5 linked regions of the Homo sapiens genome follow. The protein of the gene in region 1 purifies or fractionates together with the protein of each later gene. This does not show direct contact. Each region holds a gene or a part of one and is shown in the gene's direction. Other genes may lie near its edges. The genes, in order: NUP62CL, MAP7, BPTF, TRIM24 and FOXP1.

What was found.
Region 2: the proteins of NUP62CL (region 1) and MAP7 purify together in Homo sapiens (affinity purification with mass spectrometry; one large-scale study listed by BioGRID and IntAct). This does not show direct contact.
Region 3: the proteins of NUP62CL (region 1) and BPTF purify together in Homo sapiens (affinity purification with mass spectrometry; one large-scale study listed by BioGRID and IntAct). This does not show direct contact.
Region 4: the proteins of NUP62CL (region 1) and TRIM24 purify together in Homo sapiens (affinity purification with mass spectrometry; one large-scale study listed by BioGRID and IntAct). This does not show direct contact.
Region 5: the proteins of NUP62CL (region 1) and FOXP1 purify together in Homo sapiens (affinity purification with mass spectrometry; one large-scale study listed by BioGRID and IntAct). This does not show direct contact.

The regions. Positions count from the first base shown.
Region 1 is NC_000023.11:107,163,828-107,170,000, reverse strand, and holds part of NUP62CL (nucleoporin-62 C-terminal-like protein), read left to right. Parts: intron 1-2,216; coding exon 2,217-2,352; intron 2,353-6,173.
Region 2 is NC_000006.12:136,538,772-136,544,944, reverse strand, and holds part of MAP7 (ensconsin), read left to right. Parts: intron 1-6,173. UniProt on the Homo sapiens protein: Microtubule-stabilizing protein that may play an important role during reorganization of microtubules during polarization and differentiation of epithelial cells. Associates with microtubules in a dynamic manner.
Region 3 is NC_000017.11:67,906,573-67,912,745, forward strand, and holds part of BPTF (nucleosome-remodeling factor subunit BPTF), read left to right. Parts: intron 1-3,009; coding exon 3,010-3,189; intron 3,190-4,304; coding exon 4,305-6,173. UniProt on the Homo sapiens protein: Regulatory subunit of the ATP-dependent NURF-1 and NURF-5 ISWI chromatin remodeling complexes, which form ordered nucleosome arrays on chromatin and facilitate access to DNA during DNA-templated processes such as DNA replication, transcription, and repair.
Region 4 is NC_000007.14:138,584,573-138,590,745, forward strand, and holds the end of TRIM24 (transcription intermediary factor 1-alpha), read left to right. Parts: intron 1-169; coding exon 170-379; 3' UTR 380-5,424; downstream 5,425-6,173. UniProt on the Homo sapiens protein: Transcriptional coactivator that interacts with numerous nuclear receptors and coactivators and modulates the transcription of target genes.
Region 5 is NC_000003.12:71,572,461-71,578,633, reverse strand, and holds part of FOXP1 (forkhead box protein P1), read left to right. Parts: intron 1-6,173. UniProt on the Homo sapiens protein: Transcriptional repressor. Can act with CTBP1 to synergistically repress transcription but CTPBP1 is not essential. Plays an important role in the specification and differentiation of lung epithelium.

The DNA.
Region 1 (6,173 bases):
TGACCTCCAGTGATATACCTGCCTCGGCCTCCCAAAGTGCTGGGATTACAGGTGTGAGCCACCATGCCTAGCCAATTATATATCTTTGAATATCTATCCATGTTAGGAAGTACAGATTACTTTATTAGAAAACCATCTTTGGGTGAAGATATTCTCCTTTACAAGAAGGGCTCATTTTTTTAAAAAAAAAATTTCTTTCTGTCTTGAATGCAGTAGTTACTCAGTGTTTGGTTGAATTAATCAATAAAGGGAGTCTATTGGCATTATCATTAATTTTTAGCATTTGTGAGGAAGGTTTTCCTTTCAGGTAAGATTTTTGTTCTCAGATGAATAAAATGATGACTTATGGTTGTAAAGAATATCACACAAGATCCAATCTGTAATCTCTCCACTGTTCTAACCATAGTGACTCCTGGGCTTCTTTGTGATTGGGCATGGTCTTCCTCTGTGGTGCACATTTTACCCTCACAAGGGCTAACATAAAGAATGGGGAATTATCATAAGAACCTTTGTGGCCAAAAAGGAAATGGAGTCTTGTGGAATTCAAGTAAAGTCATTGCCACGACACTGTTACCTTAAGGAAATTGGAACTTAAGATTATTCTTAAGGCAGCTTTAGGGACCTCCCAAATCAAACATTGCATATACATAATTCGGTTATTCTCCCTTTGTCTACTTTTTTCTTTTTTTAAATTTCTCATTGGTTTCCTTACCTCTTTCTCTGCCTTCCTGCTGTACCTTATTCTTAATTGTGACTTGCTCATGGTCCCTTACTTCTACTTCATCTCCTTCTTCTGTCAGTCCTATCAAGTCTTTTTGCCTATAGTTGGATTCCTTCTATACTTTTGGAAATATTTCCCAGTATCTGCCTAGAGTCAGATTTTTCCGTATTGCTAAATTTTTGAAAATGAAATTCTGACTCATATTAATCCTGTTTCACTAGAGCTTTTTGTGCCAGACCCTCAGGTAGGCTGCTAGTAGTACATTGGATGGCTTCCCATCCTTCAGTTGGCCATCCTGCCCAGTCAACTTTGAACCAGGAACAAAAAGGACAGAGTTATCTGGAACAAAGAATGGGTATTTGAGCTTGTTCCCTCAGCAGGAATGTTCCCTCAGGCCAGCCTCCCTCAGAGTAGTCAGTGCTTGCAGCAGGCACCATGGTTTATGCATTTATCCAGTGTGGCCATTAACCTGAAACTATTGCTAATTGGGAAAGCAAAGCTAACATAAAACAAACAATCATGTACGTTATATTTTCATAACATATTTCTTGTTACAGAAGCAGCATTTACTAGTTGTAAGAACATTTGAAAATGCAGAGAACCAAAAAGAAGAAAATAAAACCTTCCCAATGCCCTAGCAGCCACAATTTTCTGTGCCTTGTTCATTAAGTGCTCAGTGTGTAGTAAGAACCAAAAGTGCTGCAGAAATTTAGAAAACCAAAGGAAACTATGAGTAGGAGAGAAGTGGGTGATAAATATGGGGAACAAAGAATTTGAGTCAAGCCATGAAGTATACTTAGGATTTTATCTATAGAGAGCAGGACATTCTAATAGGGGTGTAACAGAAAAAGACATATAGGAGAGAGTCTGGGCTGTAGATAAAGCTTTGAGAGGCTTTTGACTAGGGTTTGCAAAAATGCATGCCTAGTATTGGCTGTGGTATAAAGAAATAGGCACTCTTTCCTATTGATAGGGACATAAATTGGCAAAATTGTTTAGATAGGGCAATTTGGCAAGTTATGTTAAAATTTAGAGCATGCTGACACTTTGATCTAGAAATTTTATTTCTAGGAATTAATTACACAGATACAGTCATGTAAATATGCAAAGATATAGATGTACAGAGATCTTTTGTAAATTGCAATTATTCTTTTCTTGAAAGTTTCATAAAACTTACCAGCAGTGGCATCTGGGACTGGAGTTTCCTTTATGAGAAGAATTTTGAGGATTGATTTGATTTCTTTCATGGTTATTGGGCTGGTTAGAAGTTTTATTTTTCTATGAATTTATCCAGGATTTTCAGCTGGAAAGTTAATCCAGGTACCTGGCCTGCCATTTATTATTTCATATTACAACAGTGTTGAATTCAAATCTGCATCTTTGAGTTCAAATTTGTATTTTTAAAAATGCCTCCATAATTTTAAATCTGAATGATCAAGGCTTAAATGAAACAAATTTCTCATTTCTTACTAACATTATACACTTTATTTTCCAGTTACAACTTCAACGACTACCACCGCCACTTTCACCACCAACACTACTACCACAATCACCAGTGGCTTTACTGTGAACCAAAACCAACTGTTATCAAGAGGGTTTGAAAACCTTGTACCTTATACTTCAACTGTTAGGTAAGCCTATTTATTTAAAAACTTGCATGTGTTTCATTTTATTTATCATGTACAAGACATTTGCTTGGATAACTTTAGAATAATATTTGAAAGTTAGCTAAATGACTGAGTTGAGGGAACAGTCAAGAGAAAGATTTCTGTAGCTTAGGAAGTTGAATAAACAGCAGCACACCTTTACCTTCTGAATATCATTATAATAGAATCATTACTATTACTAATAATAGCTACCACTTATTGTGCAATTACTGTGTATGTAATCTGTGTATGTTTAGCAAGATGACAATGCATTACAAGCATCATGTCATTTATCCTCACAGTAACCCTATGAGGTAGGCAGTATTTTCATTTTCATTTTATAGGTGAGAAAACAAGAGCATATAGAGATTTTATAATCTGCTCATAGTCGCATACTTGTTAATGGTTGAGCCAGGATTAAAATTCAGACAGTCAAGCTCTGGAGCCTGTATATGATGTTTCTCTCTAGTATTTGTTCATTTTTTAAATTAAGCTTTTTATTTTGGGATAATTGTAGAGTCACATGTATATGTAAGAAATAATACACAACATTCTGTATGGTCTTTATATCATTTCCTCCAATGATAACATCTCAACAGTACTACAGTATAATATCACAACCAAGATATTGATATTGCTACAGTCAAAATACAGAACAGTTTTATCACTACAAGGATTCCTCCTGTTACCCTTGTATAGCCACACCCACTCCCCTCCTTTCCTTGACCCTGAGCAACAATTAATGTTCTCTATTTCTATAATCTTGACATTTCAAGAGTGTTGTACAGATAGAGTCATATATATGTGACCTTTGGGGATTGGATTTTTTTATTCAGCATAATTCCTTGTGATCCACCCAAGTTGTCGTGTGCATCAACAGTTTGTTCTTTTTTATTTCTGAGTAGTATTCCATGGTATTGTGGATGCACCATGGTTTGTTTAACCATTCACCTGTTGATGGACATATAGGTTGTTTCCAGTTTTTTGGATATTATGAAAAAAGCTGGTGTGAACATTGATGTACATGTTTATTATGAATATAAGTATTTCTGTGGGATAAATGCCTAGGAGTGCAGTTGTCGGGTGGTATGGTGGTTACATGTTTTTTGTTTGTTTTGTTTTTTAAGAAACTGTCAAATTCTTTTCCAGAGTACTGTGCCATTTTACATGCCCACTAGCAATGTATGGGTGATCCAGATTGTCTGCATTCTTGCCAGGATTTGGTGTTGTCACTACTTTTTATTTGAGCCCTTCTGACAGATGTGAAGTGATATCTCATTATGGTTTTAATTTGCATTTCCCTGATGACTAATGATGTTGAACGTCTTTTCACATGTTTATTTGCCATCAGTAGATCCTCTTTGGTGAAATGTCTGTTCATATCTTTTGTCCATTTTCTACTTGGATTATTTGATTTTTTTACTGTTTGGTTTTCAGAGTTTGTTATGTACTCTAGATGCCAGTCTTTTGTCAGATATGTGGCTCATAAGTATATTCTTTAACTGTGTAACTTGGCTTTTCATCCTCTTAACAGGGTCCTTTTGCTGTATCAAAACCTTTAATTAATGAGTTACAGTTTATCACATTTTCTTTTAATGAATTGTGCTTTTAGTGTCAATTATAAGAAATCTTTTCTTAGCCCTAGATCCCAAAGATTTTCTTTTTCTTCTGTGTTTTTCTAAAAGTTTTATAGTTTCACATTTTACATTTGAGCTTGTGATCCAACTGGAGTCAATTTTTATATAAGGTGTGAGGTTTAGGTCAAGATTAATTTTTTTTTGTCTGTGGATGTCGAGTTTTTCCAACATCATTTATTGAAAGACTATCTTCCCCCCTGAATTGCTTTTGCACCTTTGTCAAAAATCAATTTGTGTCAAATGCTTTTTCAGCCTCAATTGATAGTCTTAAGATTTTGTTTCTTTATCTTGGTGAAGTGGTAGATTACACTGATTGATTTTCAGATGTTCAACCAGCCCTGCATATGTGGAATAAATCCCACTTGATCATGGTGTATAATTTTTTGGTACATTTTTAAAAATTTGGTTTCCTGGTATTTTGTTTGAGGACTTTTGTATCTAAGTTCATGAGAGATATTAGTCTGTAGTTTTCGTCTTTTTTTATGTCTCTAGTTTTGATATCAGGGTAACATTGGCTCTATAAAATGATCTGGAAAGTATTCTGTTTTCTGTTTTCTAAAAGAAATAGTGTAAAATTAATGTTAATTCATAAAATGTTGGCAGAATTCTCTAGCGAAAACTTCTCGGCCTGTATCTTTCTTTTAAAGGGGTATTTATTTATTAATTAATTTATTATTATTATTTTTTTTTTTGAGACAGAGTCTCACTGTGACGCCCAGGCTAGAGTGCAGTGTCAAGATCTTAGCTCACTGCATCCTCCACCTCCCAGGTTCAAGTGATTCTCCTGCCTCAGCCGAGGCCTCCTGAGTAGCTGGGATTACAAGCTCCCGCCACCACGTCCAGCTAATCTTTGTTTTTTGTTTTTTTGTTTTGTTTGTTTGTTTGTTTGTTTGTTTGAGACGGAGTCTCGCTCTGTCGCCCAGGCTGGAGTGCAGTGGCACGATCTCGGCTCACTGCAAGCTCCGCCTCCCAGGTTCACGCCATTCTCCTGCCTCAGCCTCCTGAGTAGCTGGGACTGCAGGCACCCGCCACCACGCCCAGTTAATTTTTTTGTATTTTTAGTAGAGACGGGGTTTCACCGTGTTAGCCAGGCTGGTCTCGAACTCCTGACTTCGTGATCCTCCCGTCTGGGCCTCCCAAAGTGCTGGGATTACAGGCGTGAGCCACTGCGCCCAGCTAAAGGGGCTTTTAGGCTAAAGGGGCTTTTAAATTACAAATCAATTTCTTTAGTGGTTCTAGAACTATTCAGGTTATCTAGTTCATCTTTGATGAATGTATTGTTTTTAAAGAGTTGGCCCATTTTTTATATTGTTAAAAATAAAGTAGTTCATAGTATTCCATTATTGTCCTTTTAATGGCTGTAGGGATATTCCTGTTTCATTTCTGATGTTAGTGGTTTGTGTCTTTCTTTTATCAATTTTATCGATCGCTTCCCAAAGAGCCAGCTTTTGTTTAATTAATCATTTTCTATTCTTTTCATGTTTTCAATTTCACTTGATATCTACTCTATTATTTCCTTCCTTCTGATTGCACTGAGTTCATTTTGCTCTTTTTCTAGTTCGTTGAGGTATGAACTCAGACTATTGATTTGAGATTTTTCCTATTTTTTAACGTACACATTTAGTGCTATAAATACCCAACTCAACACTTCCTTAACTGTGACCTACATATTATGTTATATTGTGATTTCATTCAGCTCTATATACTTCTTAAATTTCCTTTGTGAATCCTTCTTTGACTAATTTATTATTTAGAAGTGTGTTGTTTAATTTCCAAGTGTTTGGAGATTTTCTTGTTGTTTTTTCTGTATTGATCGCTACTTTGATCCCATTGTGGTATTAGAATATGCTTTGTACGATTTTAGTTCTTTTAAATTTATTTAGGTTTGTTTTGTGGGTGAGGATACAGTCTGTCTTGATGAATGTTCCATGGACATTTGAAAATTGTGTTTTCTGCTGCAGGGTGGAATGTTCTATATATGTTAATTAAATTCTGTTGCTTCACTGTAATTTCAGATACTGTGTTATTGGAGTCTTTCTGTCTAGTAGTTCTTTCAGTTGTGGAGAGTGGCTTTTTGAAATCTCCGCCTTTAATTGTGGATTTCTCTATTTCTCCCTTTAGCTCTATCAGTTTTTATTTCATGTATTTTGAGGCTTTCTTGTTTGGTCA
Region 2 (6,173 bases), on another chromosome or scaffold:
TTACCCCAAAGAGATGGGGGGCGGGTCTTGCTATGTTGCCTGGGCTGGACTTGAACTCCTGGGCTCAAGTGATCCTCCCGGCTTAGCTGTTCGAGTAGCTGGGACTACAGGCATGCACCACTGTGTCCAGCAGAATCAGGTTTTGGTGGGAGAAACAGGAAAAAAACCTCTCTGCTTTAGACATGAAAATGTGTGGTACAAGAGAGATCTGTAAGTGGAAATGTTCAAAAGGCAACTGGAAGTATAGGACTAAAAGAGAAAAATAGAGGTCAGGACTCTGGGATTCACTCCATAAAGGAATAATAGCTGAAGGTTTGGGAGTGAGGAGAGCTCAGAAAAACCACAAAGGGGTGAGACGACCTGTAAAGCATGGGAGGAGGAAGAGCCAGCAAAGCAGACAGATGGAAAAGCACAGCTGAGCAATGTCACACCTGCTGAGAGGGATGGAGAGGTAAGGGATTCAAAGACTGATGAAGACATTTTATAAAAAGCTGTTGGTTTGGTTACAAATAGTCACTGACCAACCCCAGAAGAGGAATTTCAGTTGTTGGTGCAAGAGTTGGGGCTACATCAGATTAGAAGTGATTGTGAGATAAGCAGTTTGGGAAGAAAGGTAGCCAATTTAATAGACCCTCCCATAAAGCTTGCTGGTGAGAGGAAAAAATTACAAATCCTTGAATAGGCAGAGGGATTTTAAAAAATCTATTCTAAAATTTGCGTACAGTCCAGGTGCGGTGGCTCATGCCTGTAATCCCAGCACTTTGGGAGACCAAGGCGGGCAGATCGCTTGAGCTCAGGAGTTCGAGACCAGCCTGGGCAACATGGCAAAGCCCCATCTCTACTGAAAATACAAAAATTAGCCAGGTGTCGTGGCATACATCTGTAATCCGAACTACACAGGAGGCTGAGGCAGGAGAATTGTTTGAACCTGGGAGACGGAGGGTGTAGTGAGCCGAGATGGTAGCACCACATTCCAGCCTGGGCAACAGAGCATGACACCTTCTCGAAAAAAATAATTTGTGTGCAAAAAAAATTACGGATTTTCTTTTATTTTCTTTTTTTAGTTTTGTTGACTGTATAGGTAATGTAAGCACCACCGTTAACATTATCCCAAAGAGTCCTCTGCCTCCAACCTAAATTCCCTAATGCTGCACCTTTGTAGTGAGACTCTCTTCCTACACCTAACCCCTGGCAACCACTGATCTGTTTACCATCTTCCTAGTTTTGCCTTTTCCAGAATGTCATAAAAGTGGAATCATACATTGTGTAACCTTTTTTTCTTTTTTTTTGTGAGACGGAGTTTTACTCTTGTTGCCCAGGCTGGAGTGCAATGGCACAATCTCAGCTCACAGGAACCTCCTCCGCCTCCTGGGTTCAAGCGATTCTCCTGCCTCAGCCTCCCGGATAGCTGTGATTACAGGCATGTGCCACCATGCCCGGCTAATTTTGTATTTTTAGTAGAGATGGGGTTTCTACTAAACCCCATCAGGCTGATCATGAACTCCTGACCAAAGGTGATCCACCCGCCTCAGTATCCCAAAGTGCTGGGATTACAGGCGTGAGCCGCTGCACCCAGCCCCACATTGTGTAACCTTTTGAGTCTGAATTTTTCACCTGGCATCATGTTTTTGAGATTCAGGCACACTGTTGTGCATGTTAGGATGTGGTACATCCTTTTTCTTGATGAAGTAGTTTGCCATTGTATGGAAGTATCACAGATGGTTTATCAAAGAACATTTGAGTTGTTCCCGGGTTTTGGCAATTATGAATAATGCTGCTGTAAACACTTACCTACAGGTTTTTGTGTGAGCATAGTTTTCATCTATTCTGGGTAAATACCTAGGAGTGGGATTGCTGATTCATGTAACTGTATGTTTAACTTTATAAGAAATGGCCAAGCTTTTCCAGAGCAACTCTACGGTTTTACATTCTTACAAACAGTGTATGTGAGTTCTGGTTGCCCTGCATCCTCACTAATACTTAGTATCGTTAGTTTTGTTTGTTTTTAAAACTTTAGCCATTCCACCAAGTTCTTTGAGTAAAGCAATGTAATCACCTCAAAGTAAAATAGTGCCTTTTTAATGCTAACCCATGCTCACATGAATTAGGAAAGCCTGGAGGTGGTGTTGATCCCAGAGCCTAGGTATAATACGGAATTTATATTTGACTCTAATATCTTTATTCTCCTTCATTCTTTTTTCCCCACAGTATTTCTTTTTTTTTTTAATTTTAACACACCATTGCTTGCTTGAAGAGCCATAGTATCTCTTATTTCCTGTGGAGTATGCATTCTGAAGTTGATTATAGACGGAAGTGCCATTATATAGCACATTCCCTGCCAATTCAAGTTCTCTCTTCCTCCTTAATGGTCTCTGTTCTAATCCCTTGAGATATGGCTTTCTAGAACTTGGAAATAACTTGTTTTGTTGTTAGAAAGCTAGACATATTGTTCATATACTTTGTTTATTATCCTGATTAATTCCTTATTGGAACATCTTATATTGTCAAACTGAATACTTACCAGTTCTCAGATACAGTGCTTTGTAAAGCCTTGATAGTCTGTCATTGGACGTTTCATCAGTTGCTCATGGTCTAAGGTTCTGTAAGCTAAATGTGAATGGTATTTAGGCTTATACTTTTTTATAAAATTCAGTTTTAGGGTTTGTCTCGTTCTCTAGCGGTGATGTTGTCTACCTCTTTACTATCTTAGCTCTTGTAAAACTCTGAGTTACGGTTGTTGACACATTTAAATGGCATTTGGATTTTCTCTTCAGTAATTATTATTCTCTTTAGTATCTTTTTAATTTGAGAAATAGCCTGTTGAAAAAGATCTGTAAGATTTTTTTATTAGGTACCACTTTGAAATTTTTTTTAAATATATTTTTTGAGACAGAGTCTCGCTGTGTTGCCCAGGCTGGAGTGCAGTGGCACGAACTTGGCTCACGGTAACCTCTGCCTCCCAGGTTCAAATGATTCTTGTGCCTCAGCCTCCCGAGTAGCCGGGACTACAGGTGCCCACCACCATGCCCAGCTAATTTTTGGATTTTTAGTAGAGAGGGGGTTTTGCCGTGTTGGCCAGGCTTGTCTTGAACTCCTGAGCTCAAGCGATCTGCCCAACTCAGCCTCCTAAAGTGCTGGAATTACAGGTGGGAGCCACCACTCCCGGCTCCACTTTGAATTTTGATTTGAAGAGTAATATATAGTATTTGACACTGAGAAAAACTGCATTCAACTGTTCTTCATCCTTGATGCTCCTATAGAAATAGTTGTGAAAAAAAGAATCATGAGAAAGTGCCAAGGAGGATTGACACACCTGACCAGATGGCACAGAGGAGCACGGGGTATAAAACAATGCAGGGAGGAGGCTGGGAGCAGTGCACTTGGCATATGTGAGCTGCACTTCATAGGCACTGTTAGTAAATGATATATCTTTAAGTTTAGAGTATTGAGATTTGGGGTATCTTAAAATTTCTAATTCTGTGACTTTTAAAATTAAATGATATGTAAGCTTCCTTTTTGGAGTTGGCTTTCTAGTAAAGAGAACTATCCTTCACTATGGCATAACCTCTGAGTATAAAACTCATTTCCCCAACACTGTTGAATGTAGAAAAGTTCTCTAGGATCAGTTTAAATGTCAAGGTGAAGTTCTAGAAAGGAGCCCTTCCTTAGCACCTCCACCCCTCATCATGAAGCCTACTTGGTGGCAATAACATGCATAATAATTGGCTGTAAGATGTGTTCCTGTAGCAAAACTTTTGGCTGCTTCTCAAGATTCGAATCTGGGCTTCTGGTTCTCAGAAGCTCCTGACCCAAGCCTTTGGGGTGGCAGGCGCACCAGACAGGACCTGGTTGCTTACTTCTTGCATTCCAGCTGGACTGGTTTCTATTCATGGTAGATGCTCCAAATTAGTTCAGTGACAACTTCACCACAGGCGTGGTGGGTTCATTTAAATATGGGTCACTCCTTGACCCCAAGGTTATGTTGTTGAAATGATTATTGCGCCCATGTGCTGGAGTATCATTGATTCACATCATTGGCTCTCAATCTTGGCAGTGATTAAAAATCACCTGGGGACCATTTAAATATCAGGATGCCCAGGTGGCATCCAAGGTAATTATCTGAGAATCTTGCAGGATGGGAGTCAGGTGGCAGTGTTTTTAAAATTCCCCAGATGGTCTGGTGTGCAATCAGTGCTGAGAACTAATGATTCAGAACCATTTCCTATTGTATTCCCTTCCATTTGACTATTGTGGTGTGTGGTGTCAAGTGTGTGCACCTTGCTTATGGAAACCACATGGAAAATCGTAATAGCAATTGCCCTAAGTCTAGTGAGTTTACTCAGGTTGTCTCTTATTTTGCCCCAGGACTTTTTTGAAGGAAATATAGATGTGAATACAGTTATGAGTACAATTGAATAGCTAAGTATGCACACATATACTCAGTGTCCACATGTACGCACATTTCTGTATGAATATGTGCAGTGAGACAAAATACCATTCAGCTTTTGTTTTGACTTTGCCTAGCTCCTACACTGCCTTCCTCTCCCTCCTGCCCCTTAAAACCAGGAAAGGTTAAATTGGGGTAGATATTAAAGTATTTTGTAGAAAATTACATACTTTTCCCAGAGATCTTTCTAGTGACCCCTGACCTCTGATCACCAGGTCCCTGGCTCTGGAGACTGGACCTTGTTTCTTCTGTCTATAAATAGTTGACCCAAGTACGACCTTTTCCCTTCCGTGTGACCAGATGCTAATACCCTTCAGGCTAATCTTTCTTTCCTTCACCTCTCTTGTTTCTCCTCACCGCATGCTGCTGTGCCCAAGGCCCAGCTGGTAACCTCTGCGGTTTTTAATGTGCATTTTTTTCTCAGCAGGATTATTCAACTTGTGCTTTGATTATCACCTCAAATTGTCATCTCTGGCTCTACACACTGAAATGTCTACAGGCACTTCTGGTTTTGTTTTTGAGACAGGGTCTCGCTCTGTCGCCCAAGCTGGGATGCAGTGGCACAATCCTGACTTACTACAGCCTTGACCTCTTGGTCTCAAGCTATTCTCCTACCTCAGCCTACCGAGTACCTGAGACTACGGGTGCATGCCATCAGCCTGGCTAATTTTGTTTATTTTTTGTAGAGATGAGATTTCTCTATGTTGCCCAGGCGGGTTTCAAACTCCTGGACACAAGCAATCCTCCTGCCTCAGCCTCTGAAAGTGCTGGAATTATAGGCATGAGCCACCACACCCAGCTTACAGGCACTTCTGAGTTGCATTCGTGCCTGCTCCTGAGGTTTTGTGGTGCCATCTTTTGTGATTTGAAGCTTTTTCTGGGAGGGCTTACCTTTGGCAGCATGATTTCCTATCCTTTTCTCCTCTTTGCAGCTAGCATATGTCTAACTATGAAGTCCAAGGCAAAAATGAAGAGGTCAGTAGTGGATATTGGATGGGACTGATTCCTAAATAAGAGTATCTTTGATTTCTCTTTAAGATTATATGGAAACTGAGCATGTGTGAGGCTGTGAGGTCTGAAGCTCAAAACTAACACTAATTGTTTAGGGGTAATTCTAACCTACTATTTTGTGCAAGGTCTCTGGAGTCTGGCTGCCTGGGTTCCAATCTCAGCTCCACCACTTGGTACCTGTGGGATCTTGGGCATGTCATGTAAGCATTCTCTTCCTCAGTGTCTTCCTTTTTAAAATAGGGTATTGGTAATATCGTCACAGGGATTAAATTAGTTGATACTAAAGTTCTTAGAACAGTGCTTGACACAGCATAGGCACCAAGTGTTTGTTATGGTTCTTGTCATGATTACTGAAGATTAGTATTGCATTACTGTGAAACGATGGGCACACCCTGGCATGCTAAGTTTCTTCCTTAAGCCGTTTTTTATTTATAATAGTAAGCTCTCCATAGTGAAGGCATCAGAATGTAATGATGATTCAGGCCTCATTGTAGCTGTGTGATCACACTGTCATAGGCTGGCACTGGGATCAAAGGCATCATTAAAGCACTTGGGATGATGGTTTTTACCTGTCAAATGTTCCAGGAGGTTGCTGTACACTGGCCTGTGAGACCCTTAGATTGTGTTATGTGATCACGCTAAACACCCATAAAAGCCCTTCTTGGCTTTTTTTTTTTTTTTTTTTTTTGAGACAAAATCTTGCTCTGGTGCTCTG
Region 3 (6,173 bases), on another chromosome or scaffold:
GCAGGTCCCAAGCCCTTTTCTGTGATTCTTCTCTTACCTCACCACTATCCTGCTCTTGACAGGATTACGGTTTCTTTGCACTCTCTTCTCTTTCTTCAGCCAGACCTTTCTGGAAGAAATCATTCATTTAAATTAAAAATAGATATATTTTTTATATCTATTTTCTCACACCAGTATCTTGCTCGCGACAGAATTATGATTTCTTTGCACTCTCTTCCCTTCAGCCAGACCTTTCTGGAAGAAATCATTCATTTAAATAAAAAATGGATATACCTTGCTAGGTCCTTGGGATATTTAGGTTCAAGTGAAGAAGGTAAAGAATAGGAAAATGCCTTTAAGTCCAGGTGCCATGGCTCACACCTGTGATGGGATGCCAAGGCAGGGGAGGATCAGTTGAGCCCAGGAGTTCAAGAAACAGCCTGGGCAACATGGCAAATCCCCATCTCTACAAAAAATGCAAAAATTAGCCAGACATATTGGTACACACCTGTATTCCCAGTTACTCAGGAGGCTGATGAGGGAGGATCGTTTGAGCCCAGGAGTTCAAGGCTGCAGTGAGCTGAGATGAACCCACTGTGCTCCAGCCTGGGTGACAGAGCAAGACACTGTCTCCAAAAAAAAAAAAAAAACCTTTAAGTCCCAAGAATATTCATCTAGACAGTAGTTCTGTTTTGGGAGGCTTGATTTTTTTTTTTTTTTTGTAATTATTATGGGAAATTTAAAACTACACAAATACAAAGAGAATAATGAACTCATTCAGCTTCAACAATTATCAAAGTTTATCACTTTTTTTTTTTTTTTGAGATGGAGTTTTGCTCTGTCACCCAGGCTAGAGTGCAGTGGCATGGTCTCAGCTCACTGCAACCTCCACCTCCCGGGTTCAATCAATTCTCTTGCCTCAGCCTCCCAAATAGCTGGGATTACAAGTACCCGCCACCACGCCGAGCTAATTTTTGTATTTTTAATAGAGACGGGGTTTTGCCATGTTGGCCAGGCTGATCTCGAACTCCTGACTTCAAGTGATCTGCCTGCCTCGGCCTCCCAAAGTGCTGGGATTACAGGTGTGAGTCACTGCTCCCAGCCAAATTTTATCACTCTTTGTTTAGTTGTCACTGACCACTTTTTTTAATCCTGCAGTGTTTTAAAATAAATCCCAGAAATCATGTTTCACCAGAAGTTCAATATGTATCTCTACGTAGACATTTTTCCATAACCATCATGTCATTATCACACTCAACAAATTAACCGTAATTAACAAATTAATAATCTGATTCTCAGTCCATATTCCACTTGCCCTGGTTGTCTTAGAGATACCTTTTTACTGTAAGCAGTAAACAAGGCCACAGATTGCCTTTGATCCTTTTTTTCAGTCTTTTATTCTGTTATATAAACTTCAAGGAGTCCAAGAACCATTGAAATAGATTACAAAAGTTTATATACATACTTTTTTCCTTGGTAGAGGATCATAGCATTTATCCATTTCTAATAGGGTTCTGTGACACAAAGTATGTTAGAAACCACTGATATGGGCTTTCTGGAATGATCAAATAGATTGTGATAATCCTTCATACACGAGTTTTCTTTCATTTTATTTTTTTATGTGTGTGACAGAGTCTTGCTCTGTCAGCCAGGCTGGAGTGCAGTGGCACCATCTCAGCTCGCTGCAAACTCTGCCTCCCAGGTTGAAGCAATTCTCCTGCTTCAGTCTCCCAAGTAGCTGGGACTACAGGCTCGTACCACCATGACTGGCTAATTTTTGTATTTTTAGTAGAGATGGGGTTTCACCTTGTTGGGCTGGTGTTGAACTCCTGGCCTCAAGTGATCTGCCTGCCTCAGCCTCCCAAAGTGCTGGGATTACAGGCATGAGCCACCACACTCACCCAAATTTTATCACATTTGTTTCAGTTGTCACTGACCACTTTTTTTTTTTTTTTTTTTGAGATGGAGTCTCACTCTGTCACCCAGGCTGGAGTGCAGTGGTACGATCTCAGTTCACTGCAGCCTCCAACTCCCAGGTTCCAGCGATTCTCCTGCCTCAGCCTCCTGAGTAGGGATCACAGTTGCACGCCACCATGCCTGGCTAATTTTTGTATTTTTAATAGAGGCGGGGTTTCACCATGTTGGCTAGGCTGGTCTTGAACTCCTTGTCCTCAAGTGATCCGCCCACCTTGGCATCCCAAAGTGCTGGGATTACAGGCATAAGCCACTACACCCATCCAAATTTTATCACTCTTGTTTCAGTTGTCACTGACAATTTTTTTTTTTTTTTTTTTTTTTGTTGACACGGAGTCTCACTCTGTCGCCCAGGCTGGAGTGCAGTGGCGTGACCTCAGCTCACTGCGACCTCCGCCTCCTGGGTTCAAGCAATTCTCCTGCCTCAGCCTCCTGAGTAGCTGAGATCACAGGTGTGCACCACCACACCCAGATAATTTTTGTATTTTTAGTAGAGATCGGGTTTCACCATGTTAGCCAGGCTGGTCTCAAACTCCTGACCTCAGGTGATGCACCCACCTCGGCCCCTCAAAGTGCTGGGATTACAGGCATGAGCCACCGCACCAGCCTATAGTATTAATGTTTATCTTGTAGCTGACTATGTTACTGAATCACAGTTTTTTGTTTTTTTTTTAATTTTTGGACACAGAGCCTCACTCTGTCACCCAGGCTGGAGTGCAGTGGCATGAGCCACCGCACCAGGTCCCCCCCCCCCTTTTTTTTTTTATCCTGCAGTGTTTTAAAACAAATTTCCTAAATCATATTTCACCAAAAATGTTCACAAAGTTTTCTGAAATGTCTGAAGTTCAGGCATTCCTTCTGTGTTTTAGGTCAGCCAGGCATATAGGATTATATGGTACCTTATACTCAATAAGACCTTTGTCTTTTTTTTTTTTTTAAATGAAAAAATGAAACATAACTTGCTGGAAATTACTTGTTTATTTTCACTAAACTTGACATATTAAAGTGCTAATACTCTGGAAATAACGTAAATTATCGTTACATGGTTCTTTTTAGCCAAAAATAATATGGATGAAAATATGGATGAGTCAGATAAAAGAAAATGTTCACGAAGTCCAAAAAAAATAAAAATAGAGCCTGATTCTGAAAAAGATGAGGTAAAAGGTTCAGATGCTGCAAAAGGAGCAGACCAAAATGAAATGGATATCTCAAAGATTACTGAGAAGAAGGACCAAGGTAAGGAGAGTCAGCTGTGGAGGGCAGCCTGGGGGTGATAAGAATGCACTGGATCAGGGTCCCACCACAGGAAAGGTACTGCGTTGTGTTTTCTTGATAACAGCTTTATCAAAACATAATTGATATCCCATACAATTCACCCAATTAAAGTGTAAATTCAGTGGCTTTTAGTATATTCACAAAGTTCAACCATTATTACATCAATCTTAGAACATTTTCATAACCTTGAAAAGAAGCCTCATTCATACCCATTAGCAGTTACTTCCCAACCCCTCCCGAAAGTGCCACCAGCTTAGTGGTCTACTTTCTGTCTCTCTGGATTTGCCTATTTTGGACAGTCCATAGAAATGGAATCAGACAATATGTGGTCCTTTGTGGCTGGCTTCATCCACTTAGCATGGTTTTAAGGTTCATCCATGTTGTAGCATTTATCAGTACTTTCTTTTTGTTTCTGAATAATACTCTGTATGGATATGCCACATTTTGTTATCCATTCATCAGTTGATGGACATTGGGCTGTTTCCTCTTTTGGCTATACGAATAATGCTGCTATGAACATTCATGCAGAAGTTTTTTGTGGCCATGCGTTTTCACTTCTCTTGGCGATATACCTAGGAATGGAATTACTGGATCATATGGTAACTCTGTTTAACCTTTTGAGGAACTACATTGTCTTTTGTAACAAGTCATTTTTAAAAAAAAACTAGATAAGCTAGATAATGCATGTGGCTAGAGATACTTTAAAAAAATATTTTTGGCTGGGCGTGGTGGCTCATGCCTGTAATCTCAGCACTTTGGGAGGCTGAGGTGGGCGGATCACCTGAAGTCAGGAGTTCAAGACCAGCCTGGCCAACATTGCGAAACCCTGTCTCTACTGAAAATTCAAAAATAAGCCAGGCATGGTGGCACATGCCTATAATCCCAGCTACTTGGGAGGCTGAAGCATGAGAATTGCTTGAACCCAGGAGGCGGAGGTTGCAGTGAACTGAGATCATGCCACTGCACTCCAGCCTGGGCAACAGAGTGAGACTCCATCTCAAAAAAAAAAATATATATATATAAATTCCTCCTTTCAGAGTAAAAATTACATTTATATAAATGTCTTTGTTTCACAGATGTGAAGGAGCTCTTAGATTCTGACAGTGATAAACCCTGCAAGGAAGAACCAATGGAAGTAGACGATGACATGAAAACAGAGTCACATGTAAATTGTCAGGAGAGTTCTCAAGTAGATGTGGTCAATGTTAGTGAGGGTTTTCATCTAAGGACTAGTTACAAAAAGAAAACAAAATCATCCAAACTAGATGGACTTCTTGAAAGGAGAATTAAACAGTTTACACTGGAAGAAAAACAGCGACTCGAAAAAATCAAGTTGGAGGGTGGAATTAAGGGTATAGGAAAGACTTCTACAAATTCTTCAAAAAATCTCTCTGAATCACCAGTAATAACGAAAGCAAAAGAAGGGTGTCAGAGTGACTCGATGAGACAAGAACAGAGCCCAAATGCAAATAATGATCAACCTGAGGACTTGATTCAGGGATGTTCAGAAAGTGATTCCTCAGTTCTTAGAATGAGTGATCCTAGTCATACCACAAACAAACTTTATCCAAAAGATCGAGTGTTAGATGATGTCTCCATTCGGAGCCCAGAAACAAAATGTCCGAAACAAAATTCCATTGAAAATGACATAGAAGAAAAAGTCTCTGACCTTGCCAGTAGAGGCCAGGAACCCAGTAAGAGTAAAACAAAAGGAAATGATTTTTTCATCGATGACTCTAAACTAGCCAGTGCAGATGATATTGGTACTTTGATCTGTAAGAACAAAAAACCGCTCATACAGGAGGAAAGTGACACCATTGTTTCTTCTTCCAAGAGTGCTTTACATTCATCAGTGCCTAAAAGTACCAATGACAGAGATGCCACACCTCTGTCAAGAGCAATGGACTTTGAAGGAAAACTGGGATGTGACTCTGAATCTAATAGCACTTTGGAAAATAGTTCTGATACCGTGTCTATTCAGGATAGCAGTGAAGAAGATATGATTGTTCAGAATAGCAATGAAAGCATTTCTGAACAGTTCAGAACTCGAGAACAAGATGTTGAAGTCTTGGAGCCGTTAAAGTGTGAGTTGGTTTCTGGTGAGTCCACTGGAAACTGTGAGGACAGGCTGCCGGTCAAGGGGACTGAAGCAAATGGTAAAAAACCAAGTCAGCAGAAGAAATTAGAGGAGAGACCAGTTAATAAATGTAGTGATCAAATAAAGCTAAAAAATACCACTGACAAAAAGAATAATGAAAATCGAGAGTCTGAAAAGAAAGGACAGAGAACAAGTACATTTCAAATAAATGGAAAAGATAATAAACCCAAAATATATTTGAAAGGTGAATGCTTGAAAGAAATTTCTGAGAGTAGAGTAGTAAGTGGTAATGTTGAACCAAAGGTTAATAATATAAATAAAATAATCCCTGAGAATGATATTAAATCATTGACTGTTAAAGAATCTGCTATAAGGCCATTCATTAATGGTGATGTCATCATGGAAGATTTTAATGAAAGAAACAGCTCCGAAACAAAATCGCATTTGCTGAGTTCTTCAGATGCTGAAGGTAACTACCGAGATAGCCTTGAGACCCTGCCATCAACCAAAGAGTCTGACAGTACACAGACGACCACACCCTCAGCATCTTGTCCAGAAAGCAATTCAGTTAATCAGGTAGAAGATATGGAAATAGAAACCTCAGAAGTTAAGAAAGTTACTTCATCACCTATTACTTCTGAAGAGGAATCTAATCTCAGTAATGACTTTATTGATGAAAATGGTCTGCCCATCAACAAAAATGAAAATGTCAATGGAGAATCTAAAAGAAAAACCGTCATCACAGAAGTCACCACGATGACCTCCACAGTGGCCACAGAATCAAAAACTGTGATCAAGGTAGAAAAAGGCGATAAGCAAACTGTGGTTTCTTCCACAGAAAATTGTG
Region 4 (6,173 bases), on another chromosome or scaffold:
TTCTGAATCTTTTATTTTAGCTGGCCTTCTGTACAGAGACTTTGTCTAGTCCTAAACTATTATTTCAATGACTATGCATGAACACTTTTCAAAACAGCTCATTAATATATATAATCTCAGAAGTCAAAAGTGTGTCCTTTTTTTACTCATTTTTATTTTTACTCCACAGCCTGATTCAGAAGTAGCCAATGCTGGTATAAAACTTGAAAATTATTTTGAAGAACTTCTAAAGAACCTCTATCCAGAAAAAAGGTTTCCCAAACCAGAATTCAGGAATGAATCAGAAGATAATAAATTTAGTGATGATTCAGATGATGACTTTGTACAGCCCCGGAAGAAACGCCTCAAAAGCATTGAAGAACGCCAGTTGCTTAAATAATATGCAGCACCACTAGCTTGTGCTGGTTTTTAGATTTTTTTGTTTTCAAAAAAACATTTGTCAGTAATTTAACATCACTACAAAAAGAAGAGTTTGTGACTATTCTCATCTCTGTTTTGGACGTTTACTAGACTTTGATTTCCTTAATAGCCCATTTCTGTTAACCTCTTATCACTAAGAAAGAAAGGAAAGAAGGAGATGAATAGAAGAAAGAAAATGGAAAGAAGGAAAAAAGGAGGATAGAAAAAGGATGGAAGAAAGAAGCATTGAAAACAAAGACATTCTTCCCACTTCTTGGATTTTTAAACCACAGTCTGGAGTGATAGCTACTGTAGAAAGGAAATAGACTTTGTATGAACTCTTTAAGTTGAAAAGTAAAAAATATATGTGGTTTGGATGTGTGCTTTAATTCAGCTTTAGAAATTAATACCACTACCCGTGAATTATATGGCCTGACAATATGAATTAGGTGTACTGTACTGAAGAACAGTACTCCACAAACATGGGTGGTAACAAGAGTTCCATCCCAGGAGGCCAAACGGTGCAACAGAAGGGTAGGTTAGATGCTATTAAGAAGGCACTTAATAGTACATCATGTAAGATGGCAACTGTATTAAAGAAAAATCCGGAAAACAAATGTTTGATTTTTGTTTTTGTTTTTATCTTGTCTGTAGAGGTATTTTGGTATAGCAGGTTTTCAAGGCCATTTTTTATACATTTCTAGATCTAGATTTTCAACTTCTTCCACTGAGGGAAGTATATACATTTGGGTTTGCTGTGTGTCTATGTGAGGTTTAATTGTACAGGTGATCCTTTTACAACAAGCCTCATTGTTTGCAGTATAGCTTTTAGTGGAACTACCCAAAATATAAATACAGCAGCGTGCACTGTATTTGATGTGAGGGTTCTTCATCATATACCCTACTGGGCATTAAATATAAGTTCCTCTGAAAGGGACTCGTTTTTGTGGTTTTCATCTGTCTATAATTTGGAATGAAAATGTGTTGTAGGATTTTGGGAGCAGGCAGCTGGGGGGAATTAATAGTGATTTTTTTTTTTTCCTGAAGCATCTATCTCATGTTTTTCTTTTGAGAGTCAGAACATCAAACTTAATCTTTGATCTGACTTCTGATTTTATTCTTCTGATTGATTGATAGAGGTACAAAAGACTTATCTTCTGAGGACAAGCATATTCTTAATGTGCCAGACCTACCCGGTTCAGCTGATATAGATAGATAGATAGATAGAAGAAAATTGCTGTGCCATACATTAATCCAGCATTTGACACAATATCTAAATGGTTTGCCGAAGTTAATCTGTATTTATAAAACATTAACTGGAGTAAATTTTTCTCCTTAGGATGATAGAATAAAAAGAGCTCACTTGAAAGAAGGCTATTATTTGCATTATATCACCTGCCATAAATTTAACATAGAAGACTTGGTTTTATCTACATGGCTTTACTTCTTAAAGTGGAAAATATCCTGTGGCTAATTCATTGGGTTTTCAGGTACTGCTAAAGATAAAATACAGGGAGAAAATAACTTGTTAGCAATAGATCCCCATTGTTTATATATATAGGTCTTGTTCATAATATGTCAATTATGTATTGTTAAAAAGTCCTACTCACTTTTCAAATATGTGTTACATGGTAATGTTTGTCATTGTTGTTTTAAAGTTGCATTTGACATTTGTTCTCCAAAGAGTGTTTGAACAGATTTTGATAACAGTGCATACACCTTTTGTCTTTTTTTGCTCCAGCATTTTATTTTTAGCACAGCAGCTGTGGAGCTTTTGCTGATAATTTTATTGTTGGTATCTTAGAATACTGTTCGTCTGACAGTTTATTCTTCCATACTTGTCTCCCAAGTTAAAACAGAGCAAAACAGATAAATTATTTTGAGAATCATCACAAAAGGGAGTTAGAACTTGTGAGACTAAAACTATAATTTCCTAAATGTGACTAATGAACCCCAAACTGTCACTATTACATTCAGTGCCATATTTATCTTTCAAAACAGTATTTGTTTCACCCTAACCATCTTTGGCTGAATGAAAGGCAGTTGAGAACCATCTTTTGGTCATACATAATATAATTATATTAAAAGTAAAGATCGGGGCTGGGCGCAGTGGCTCACACCTGCAATCCCACCAGCACTTTGGGAGGCCAAGGTGGGCGGATCACAAAGTCAAGAGTTCGAGATCAGCCTGGCCAACATTGTGAAACCCCGCCTCTACAAAAAATACAAAAATTAGCCGGACATGGTGGCGTGCAACTGTAATCCCAACTACTCAGGAGGCTGAGACAGGAGAATCACTTGAACGCAGGAGGCAGAAGTTGCAGTGAGCCAAGATCTCACCATTGCACTCCAGCCTGAGTGACAGAGACTCAGTCTCAAAAACAAAAAGTAAAGGTCTTGGGTTTCTCTCTGTAAATAGCCTTTGTGTAATGGTCTTTAGATTAATATCCTTTGACTTTATTAATAAGTACCTGTGTGCCCAGGTGGATCTCAGCTAAGTCATCCTTAAATTCTGTTCAAATAGAAATAAACCATAAAATGAGCCTAACTATAACCCACACTCACTTATCAAGCATTCCCCCAAAAGTTCAGTGCGATTCAGGTAACCTTGACCTAAACTTGTACACTCCGGTGTACATCTTTGACCATAAACTCTGGGAGATTTCCCTCTGGATTTGGGATCAGGAGCCCAGTAGGGCCCCATTGCTGAATGTTTATCACACTTCTGGCTAGGGCTTATGGATGAGCAGACCACGTAGGAGCTAGGATTTACTCAGTTCCACCTCACTGACAGCTTTTCTAGGTGCCAAGCAACTGACTTTTCCTGTGTAAGGAAGCCCAAGTACTTGACCAGTGATATATATGGCCATGGCAAAAGTATAAATGGATGGATGTAGACCATATTCAACGCAGAATACATTTTAGATCGGTATCTGGCATTGTAATCATTTTGTCTTTTGAATTAACATGCCCTGCTTGTCTTTTCTGAATGGAAGGGTAGGAAAGTGGAAGGTACTAAAAAGGAAAATGTAGTTTTAGTTTCTTTTCTAAGCTAAAGAACTGGCTTTACTACTGCTATATTTTACTACCACATAGTAGTGTAGATGTAGTATAACTTGCTTAGGAATGCTTTCAAAAAGGTTACCTCCATAGTCAAAAAAAGGGGGAGTATACAGCTGATTGTTGCATTTATGAAACTGCATTTCAATATGCTATGCTGTTACTGTGCTTAGACACTTCCTTACGTTTGAGTTCCAAGGAGAGAGAGTGAGAAGAGGAACTCCTTTTGCTGAGCTCTGGTCCAAATTAATGTGAATCCCCAAAGTAAATTGCTGCATATGAACAACAGGTTTTAGGTTTAAATTGAAGATACATTCATTTTATATGTATTTGTTGTGAATGAGAGAAATTGAGTGATCTGATTGGCCATTAAAATTATGGTGAATGGGTCGGGCGCAGTGGCTCACGCCTGTAATCCCAGCACTTTGGGAGGCCGAGGTGGGTAGATACCTGAGGTCAGGAGTTTGAGACCAGCCTGACCAACATGGTGAAACCCCATCTCTACTAAAAATACCAAAATCACCAGGGTGTGGTGGCCCATGCCTGTAATCCTAGCTACTCGGGAGGCTGAGGCAGGAGAATCGGCTTGAACCCAGGAGGCAGAGGTTGCAGTGAGCTGAGATCGCACCACTGTAGTCCAGCCTGGGTGTCAGAGCAAGACTCTGTCACAAAAAGAAAAATTATGGGGAATGGCCGGGCGCGGTGGCTCACACCTGTAATCCCAGCACTTTGGGAGGCCGAGGTGGGTGGATCACCTGAAGTCAGGAGCTCAAGACCAGCCTGGCCAACATGGTGAAACCCCACCTCAACAGAATATACAAAAAAATTAGCTGGGTGTGGTGGCGGGTGCCTGTAATCTCAGCTACTTTGGGATGCTGAGGCAGGAGAATAGCTTGAACCCAGGAGGTGGAGGTTGCAGTGAGTCGAGATTGCACCATTGCACTCCAGCCTGGGCAACAAGAGCAAAACTCTGTCTCAAAAAAAAAAAAAAATGGTGACCATGCGTTCAACCATATAATTTCTTACTGAAATTGAGCTCCTCCTTTTGAATAACCATGTACATATTTTTAAAAGTATTTTATAGCCCTATGTAAATTAATAGTTGATGTCTTTTTATAAATGTTTATTGCATATTCATCTTGAATGTGAATTTACTGTTGTAATTCACATACTGGTGTCATGTTTCTGAGTGAGAATAATGCTAGTCAGTCAGATCACAGATTTTTCTCCATGAAGGTTTTACTTATTGAGAGGGACATCTGAGGCAGTAGTCTTCGTCTTTAATTTTTGGGGGCAGATTGGTGCTTTGGTTTTAATAAAAACTAACTTTGATGGATTTTTACTGTCAATATTTTACCACAAGGATTTTTTAATAGAAAAATTACTGAATGTTACTTCAGCAGAGTTCTATCTACTTTGAGTCTCCATTACTACTACTGTTGTTCCCCTAGCTGTAACATTGATCCATATAGGGGCAAGCTACTAGTCCATAAATAGCTGTAATAGGAAAACAGTTTTTTAAAATTCTAACACGTGTATTTCACCAGCCTTAAAAGATTTAAAAAAAAATCTGACAGGAAGGAAAGCGGGTGGTAAGTATCTTGGATTATTCTGCCTCATACCAGCCACTCCCAAAGTAGGAGGACCAAAGATGCCATGAAGACTTCTAGTTGTCTGGAAGTTATTTGGGGAAGGGGGGAAAGACACAGAGTGGGGACCTTTGGAAGTCATTTTAAAAATTTAGCTATGTTAATTCCACTTGTAAAGTTTGAAAGGTTTTGATTCTTGTAATTTCTGAGAATTACTATGTTTTAAATTTACTATTGGATATTTAACAGATCTTTCATGGGGCCAACCTATTTGCTTCCTTAATTTTCAAATTAAGTCCTAATTTGAGTCCTAAAAAAATCTTTCCTTGTTAGTTGCAAGTTAAACATTTAATAAAATTATTTTCCCACGTTTTCACATGTGGTATGGAATAAAGGCTGTTTTAACATTCCCTGCGAGATACTTGGGAAGGTGGATTCTTTGCCTATGTACTAATGCCTTTAACCCCAAGACAACTGAACCAGAAAAAAGTCAGTCAGGAATCTTTCCATTGCAAATGACTGAATGCCAGTTGCCATTGCTTTGGGGGAGAGGATAGAATATACAGATCAACCAGAGTTAAGCCCTCCTCACCTTTTAAATGAAAATGTACTGACCTGAGAAGTGGCATTTCTCCAAGGGAAAATCAGGGTGTTCTCTTTTTTTTTTTTTTTTTTTAGGCAGGTCTCCCTCTGTCATCCAGGCGGAAGTGCAGTGGCACCATCATGGCTCATTGCAGCCTCCATCTCCTGGGTTTTAGCAATCCTCCTGCCTCAGCCTTCCAAAGTGCTGGGATTACAGGCATGAGCCACCACATTCAGCCCAGGGTGTTCTTAACAAGAAGGAACAACAAACTAGGCAACCAAGTGCCAAACTTTGATGGTGATGCTGGTTATCTGACTGCTCCTTTTAGGGATTCACTAATGAGGTTGTATGTTAAGAAAACCCGAGGTACAAACAGTCCAAAATAAATATTTTGGCATTCATATTATAATAGTAGTTTTTGCAAAATCTCAGGCCAATATCCCTAATGAACATCAATGCGAAAATCCTCAAGTGAAACACTGGCAAACCGAGTGCAGCAGCACATCAAAAAGCTTATCCACTACGATCAAGTTGGCTTCATC
Region 5 (6,173 bases), on another chromosome or scaffold:
GACAACTTCTTTTGAACCCAGCTTCCTCTTTGCAGCCAATCTTATTGTGCATATTTATTTGATTTTCATGTTTTACTTATGACTCAAACTCAGTTTTGAAACACTATCTTGTAAGATTCCACATCTCAAAAAGTATGTATATTTAGACAAGGTTAGGTGTTACAGTACCTATCACATTTCAGTGGGAATGCCAAGAATATTTACAGGGTATAGCAAGAATTTTGTCCTTTAAAAATAATTTTAGGTATACGTTAATAAAACCGAAGTAGATTGCAGGCTGTCAGAACATAGTATAAATTTTGTTTATGATTCTGTTACTTTAAGGTACTTACATTAAAGAAACTCATTTAACCCGTGACTGAAGAGCATTAAGTGGGGAGGGAAACCCTCTGAAGAGCTCCTACTGCCCTTTGCTCTCCCGATAATCTTAAATTACTACAATTTAATTGCAACTTCAAGGCATTCAGCATGAGCTGTTTCTTCTCCACGACCGAGAAAGGGTTTCCAGAGCATGGCTAGATTTACACAGGTGGTATTTTTGTTTTTAATTTTTTTTTTCTTTTTGCTAAGGGCTTTTCCTTTCTTCCTTATCCTGTCAGATGTCACACTTCTTTTATAGATTTCAGTCATAGTAAATGCCATTTTTGCTATACCAGCAATATTGGCCTTCTTTTTTTCTTTTTAAATGTGTTTTTTTGAATCTAGAGTATATAAACCTCTCAAGCAGGTAGGGGTTTGTTTTCTAAAGAAAATAACCTCAAGAAAGGCATCTGCTGAATAGACAGGTGAACTTTATACCTGAGCCAATGTATACTTTTACTATTTGCAGGGGATTTTTTTTTTTTAAGTTGATGGTAGTTAGTCCCACCAGGTGATCAAACATTGAGTTTGTGAGACAAGCCAGCAAGCCAAGTAGGTTTGCACTTGGGCCCATGCATTTTTTTAATGATCTTTCTTGTCATTTGTTACTCTACTCTGCAGGCCACTTTGCTATACATATGCTATCCAAGGAACCATCTTAAACTGATTTTTCAACATATTTCTCTTCTCCGGTACTTGGATGAATTAAGGATAAAGGCTCCAAAAGCTGGAATGCCAGCAGGCCTTGAGATGAGGCAAGTTCCTGAAACGGGCAAACCTGGCGAAATTTGGGGTATCTTCTGCATGATAGTTTTTTTCCTTTTTTTTTTTTCCTGGGACGTTTGTAGTTTATTTCAATGAGCATGTGACCATGTGCTTAATGGAAATTAAGCAGATTTGGCTTGTGTCGCTAACCTAAAAATAAATGTTGTAAGGAATATTTGATTTCTAGAAGTGTTTTGGTTTTGCATCCCATAGATAATGTTCTTACAGTTAGGGCTACGAGGCTGGTATTCTGCAAAGAGGAAGTACAATGGGGGAAAGTGCATGGCAGTCAGGAAAGACAATTAGACAGTGTTCTTTGTTTCTTTAATAAATTATTCTTATTAATTACAGTCAGTTTGTGCTAAGGCATTTTTCAATCCTTGTTTAGAAGTCAGCTGCCATTCACAAGAAGGTTGTGCCAGAAGCTGTGTTCTTCGCACGCACTGTTGTTTTACCCAGTCGTGAAATCTATTGACCAGATTGGCTTGTGGATGTCTCTGCAAGGCTTGTTTTTCTTTTTGCAATGCCCTGATGCCAGTCTTTAATACATGCCCTGCCTTGTACACAACAGGTGTTTGTTCGGTAGTTATTTTATGGGACTTAGAGTGAGAAAAAAATGTTTCCTATCTAGCCAGCCGCTGTGAGAACGAGTGCCTGAAAGGGAGAACCTACCTAGTACCTGAACAGGTGTAAATGGGTGTTTCCTCATGACCCTCCCCAAGCTGTTTTATTTCAAAAGGAGGGGAGGGGGGCTCAGTTTAGTGCCATGAAATTTACAATTCAGTTGTAATAATTTAAGGTTATTGGTAGAGTGCAAAGGGCAGTGGGAGCTTTCTAGTGGTTTGGCCTTGATGCTTAAAGCTGCTCAGTTGTAGGGTTAAATTAGTTCCTTCAGTCTGAGTACTTAAAGTAACTAAATCGTAAACAAAATTTATATTCGATTCTGACAACTAATAATCTATTTAAATTATATTAAAGTATCTGGGCAAAAATTTAATTAAAGACAGAAGTACTGTCAAGCCCTGTAAATATCTTGACAGGTCTACTCAAATGGAACTGATATCACGAAATATTTACATATGTCTGCTGTGTTCGGGAACATCTCAGCAGTGCCTGTGCAAAGCTAATTGCACTTTCCTTCCAAATTGTATTTTTAATAAAATAGTTTTTTTTTTAAAAAGGAATATGAATACATACACAGTTGTGTTCCAGTGTTCTGTTTACTATTTACTTCTCTATACTCAGAATCATGTTGTGATGAGTGTATTTCCTCAAACTGCTGCTAATTCAGATAAATAGCTGAAATGGGATCATTGAATAGAAAGCCCATGTCATTCTGTTTGATTTCAACAGTTTGAAGATATCAGAGGCTAGCATGTTATAGGACAATTTACTGAGGGAAAAATGGATCTGAATGTGGGATTATTGGGCCTTGTTTATGTTCAATAGAATAGATTTGCTTAGGACAAACATTTTCTCTGAGTTTTATGTTTGGACATATATTTATTTATTACTTGTAAGTCAGGTGGACATCCACATTTTACCAGATGCTCTGATTTTAGCTAATTTTGTGATTCACTTTGTTTACTAGGACACTGAAGAATATTTCTAGCATCAAACTGAATTTCCGAGGTGTCCTTTCTCCCTCCCAGCTGTGCAATTGAGTCATAATGTGACTTTCTCTGCTCCAGGTTCCCTGCTTTTGAATTAGGGGTAATATTTTAACATATGTTCTTTGAGCTTAGGGATCCAATGATACAGGGCTTTGTTATTACTCACATTTTTAAAAGATATTCTTGGTGCTCTCAGGACAGTGACCGCAGCTTTTGTTGGGGGAGGGTGTGATGTGAGTTTTGCTTGAGTTTCTTTTGCCCTGGTGCCTACCTCCTGATGACCAGTGGCACTGGTGGCTTCCCCTCCTGGGGGTGAGCACAGAGATGGAAGTGAATGCTCATGTCTGAAGTGAAGGGAGGTTGCAGTTGGTCCTAATTCAGCCTGGTTCAAAGTGAGGTCCTCGCTCACCTACCTCTGTATCTGTGTGTGTGTGTGTGTATGTGTGTGTGTGTAGGTTATTAAAATACAGATCCTTGAGTCAGAATTTTTGCTGATTGACATGGTAACGTACATTTATAACAAACTTCCCTTGATAATTCTGATGCATGCTAGAGACCTGTGAATCAAGTGATTTATTCTTTCAGATGTGTGGAACTGAAATCTCTATCTTCACTTGGATTTTACTGATGATTTCTTTGATTTTACCTTGAGGCCCATCCTGTGTTGTTTTTAATGTATTTGGATTTTTATTACGAATGAAAAACGGTGGTTTTTAACCAAGCACGAGTATTGGAATCACAGCAGAGCTGTTGTTCCCAACACAGACACAGTTGCACGACTCCTGGATGTGCCGTATCTGGGGTGGGGCCAGCATCTGTGTTTTTAAATCGCATCCCACATGGTCCTGATGCCCACCAAAGTGGGAAAACTGGACCTGTCAATTATCAGAGTTGGAGGAAAGCCTGCAACCCTTCTTAAGAGTTTAATTGAATTGGTTGGCCATTGTGAAACCTAAGAGAAGAAAACGGAGCTCCTTTTTCAGGAGGGCACAAAAAGAAACCTTGGAGACTTAGAGAAACAGAGGCAGAACAAGAGCCTCACAGTTCAATAACGTGATAGGAACAACCTGGAACATCGGTGGTTTTCACCAAATGTCAATATCAGATAATTTCCTTTTGAATTTTGTCTTGCCTGCATCCATGTTTCCCAATGGGTGTTGTCATGCTGTAGCTACCAATTAGTGTCAGATGACTCTCTAGAATTTTTTTTTCTGAGTATTCCATCTTAATTTTAAAATTGTAACTGTTTGCTCTTTGGATTAACCCTGCTGGCAGAAGTATTTTGATTTTCCCAAGCATCTTGGGAAATTCTCTATCGTATGTGATGGGGCATGCACGAATATTGATGGAAATAGCCTAGCCAACGATGCCACACAAATAAAGAAACCAGAATCCTAAGAAGAAGGCATCCTACAAGATTATGAAATAAAGGAAGATAAAATGTTAAGGAGGCTTATTTAAATATTCAGGGCTTCAACTAAAGATCTAACCACTAAGATCAAAAGAGTTATTTAAATAAAAGTTGTTGAGACATTTTTTCATCTGTATTAATAATGTGGCTTTTGAAGTTACCCGGTAATAATGTGTCCATAATGCCCACACCTAATTTTTAATTTCCATTTTGGCTTTAGGTGTGGCTTTATTTTAATAGCTGCCAAAAAGTTGGCAATTGTTTTTACGTTTAGAACTTCACAGTTTGCTTTTCTGTAGGTTTAGGTAGCATTGGGGATATTCGTCTAATAAAAACTTTTAAAATTTCTGTTCTGACCCTGAGGCACTTAAAAAAAACTCTTATGGGCCAAATTTTAAAAGTAGAGTGTCTCTACTACTGCATAAAGAATTTCTATAAAAGATGAAACATGGAGCTGATTGAAAGAATAGACGGCGCAATGGTAGAGGACACATAGTTACCACTGTCACTGGTAATCTACAGCTTGATGCGAAGTCATTCCGCCTTGTTTGTTGAAATGTTAATCATTTCATTAAGAAAGGTTAAGTAATTAACTGATATTTCATTAGGGAATCAATGACAGACCTTTTTTTAGTGATGTATGGTAGATATTTTCTAATAGAAAGTTTGCCCCATTTAATTATTTGGAAAGAAGCTAGTTGATTGAGCCTTGGGAAGGAGGGGTGGGGCATCTTCAGATAACATCTATGTCCATAAGCAACTTTAAATAATTTTGGAGAAAATGGTCTATTAGAATAGAAAATCGTTCAGTCCCCAGTTTTCTTTTATGGGCTCCATCAGGCATGTTGTTGCAGACCTGCTGTTGTTTTGCATGCCTTCTCTGGGTTTAAGAAGGGTTCAGCTGCTTAAATGTGTTCATCTTATTTTCTAAATAATGGCTTTTGTTGCAGTGTGATGCATGTTGACAGTAAACGCGCAGCCGTAACTTTGGTAAGCTTACAACAAATTCTTATACTTGTAGAAGCAAGTTATCCTCCTTGCTGCTGACTGGGGGTGCTTCTCCCTTTTGTCTGGCTATCCTTATGGCAACTGCAGCAAAAGGTTTAAGTATTCTGGGATGAGGATGGGGTGGGGGTGGGGACGGAGGGACTCTCCACCTGGCGAAAGTTCACCTTTTCTGATACCTTTTTGTCCTGAAATCACACACAAAGTATGCTTCTTGCATATTTTTCCTTGTGTGTGTATTTATGTCAACTCAAAAAGATACTTAGAGAGAAATCTCATTTCTGTGTTTGCTTTTGTTTTGCTTAAGAAGCAGGACAGTCACATTTACTAAATACAGAGTATCTCTTTGTTAGAAGTGACTTTCCTGCAGCAGACTCCTGAGGTTAAAAATTCTTTAAATATAAGGTAATCCTAAGAACTTTTGAAAATGAATAGATTTTATATTGGATTGCTGGGTTTTTCAGTATTTGTAACCAGTGTCCGAATTACTGAATAGAGTGTGATGCCTTGGTCTCAAGCATTTTGTTCTGTGAGTTGAGAACAACTCAACTTACCTTTTTAAGAAAAGAAATCAGGCTGATATTTACAAAGCTATTTATTTTAAAACTGTATGCTTATATGTTTCCATTTTCATTGTGAAATATGTAAGGCACAAAAAAGGAACAAAGAGTAAATCAGTGAGCACCCATGTACCTGTAGCCCGGCTTAAGAGAGAAGACGCTGCTGGTTCAGGTAGGAGAGGCTCCTGGAATATCCCATCCTCATCTTACCTCTGTCCTTCTTTCCTAGAGGTTACTTTACCACTGTTCGCAGCTGGGTGGTTTTCATCTTGTGTAGTTCTTCATATTTTTAATATGTATGCATGTACAGGATTCCTCAAAATACAGGATTTTGTTTTGCACGTTCAAGGTTTGTTCTGATAGCATCCTACTATATATGTTTTTTAGTAACTTGCTTTTTTAAAAAATAAACAACAGTAAAATTCATCCATGTGGATACATGTAGCTATAGCTTATTGA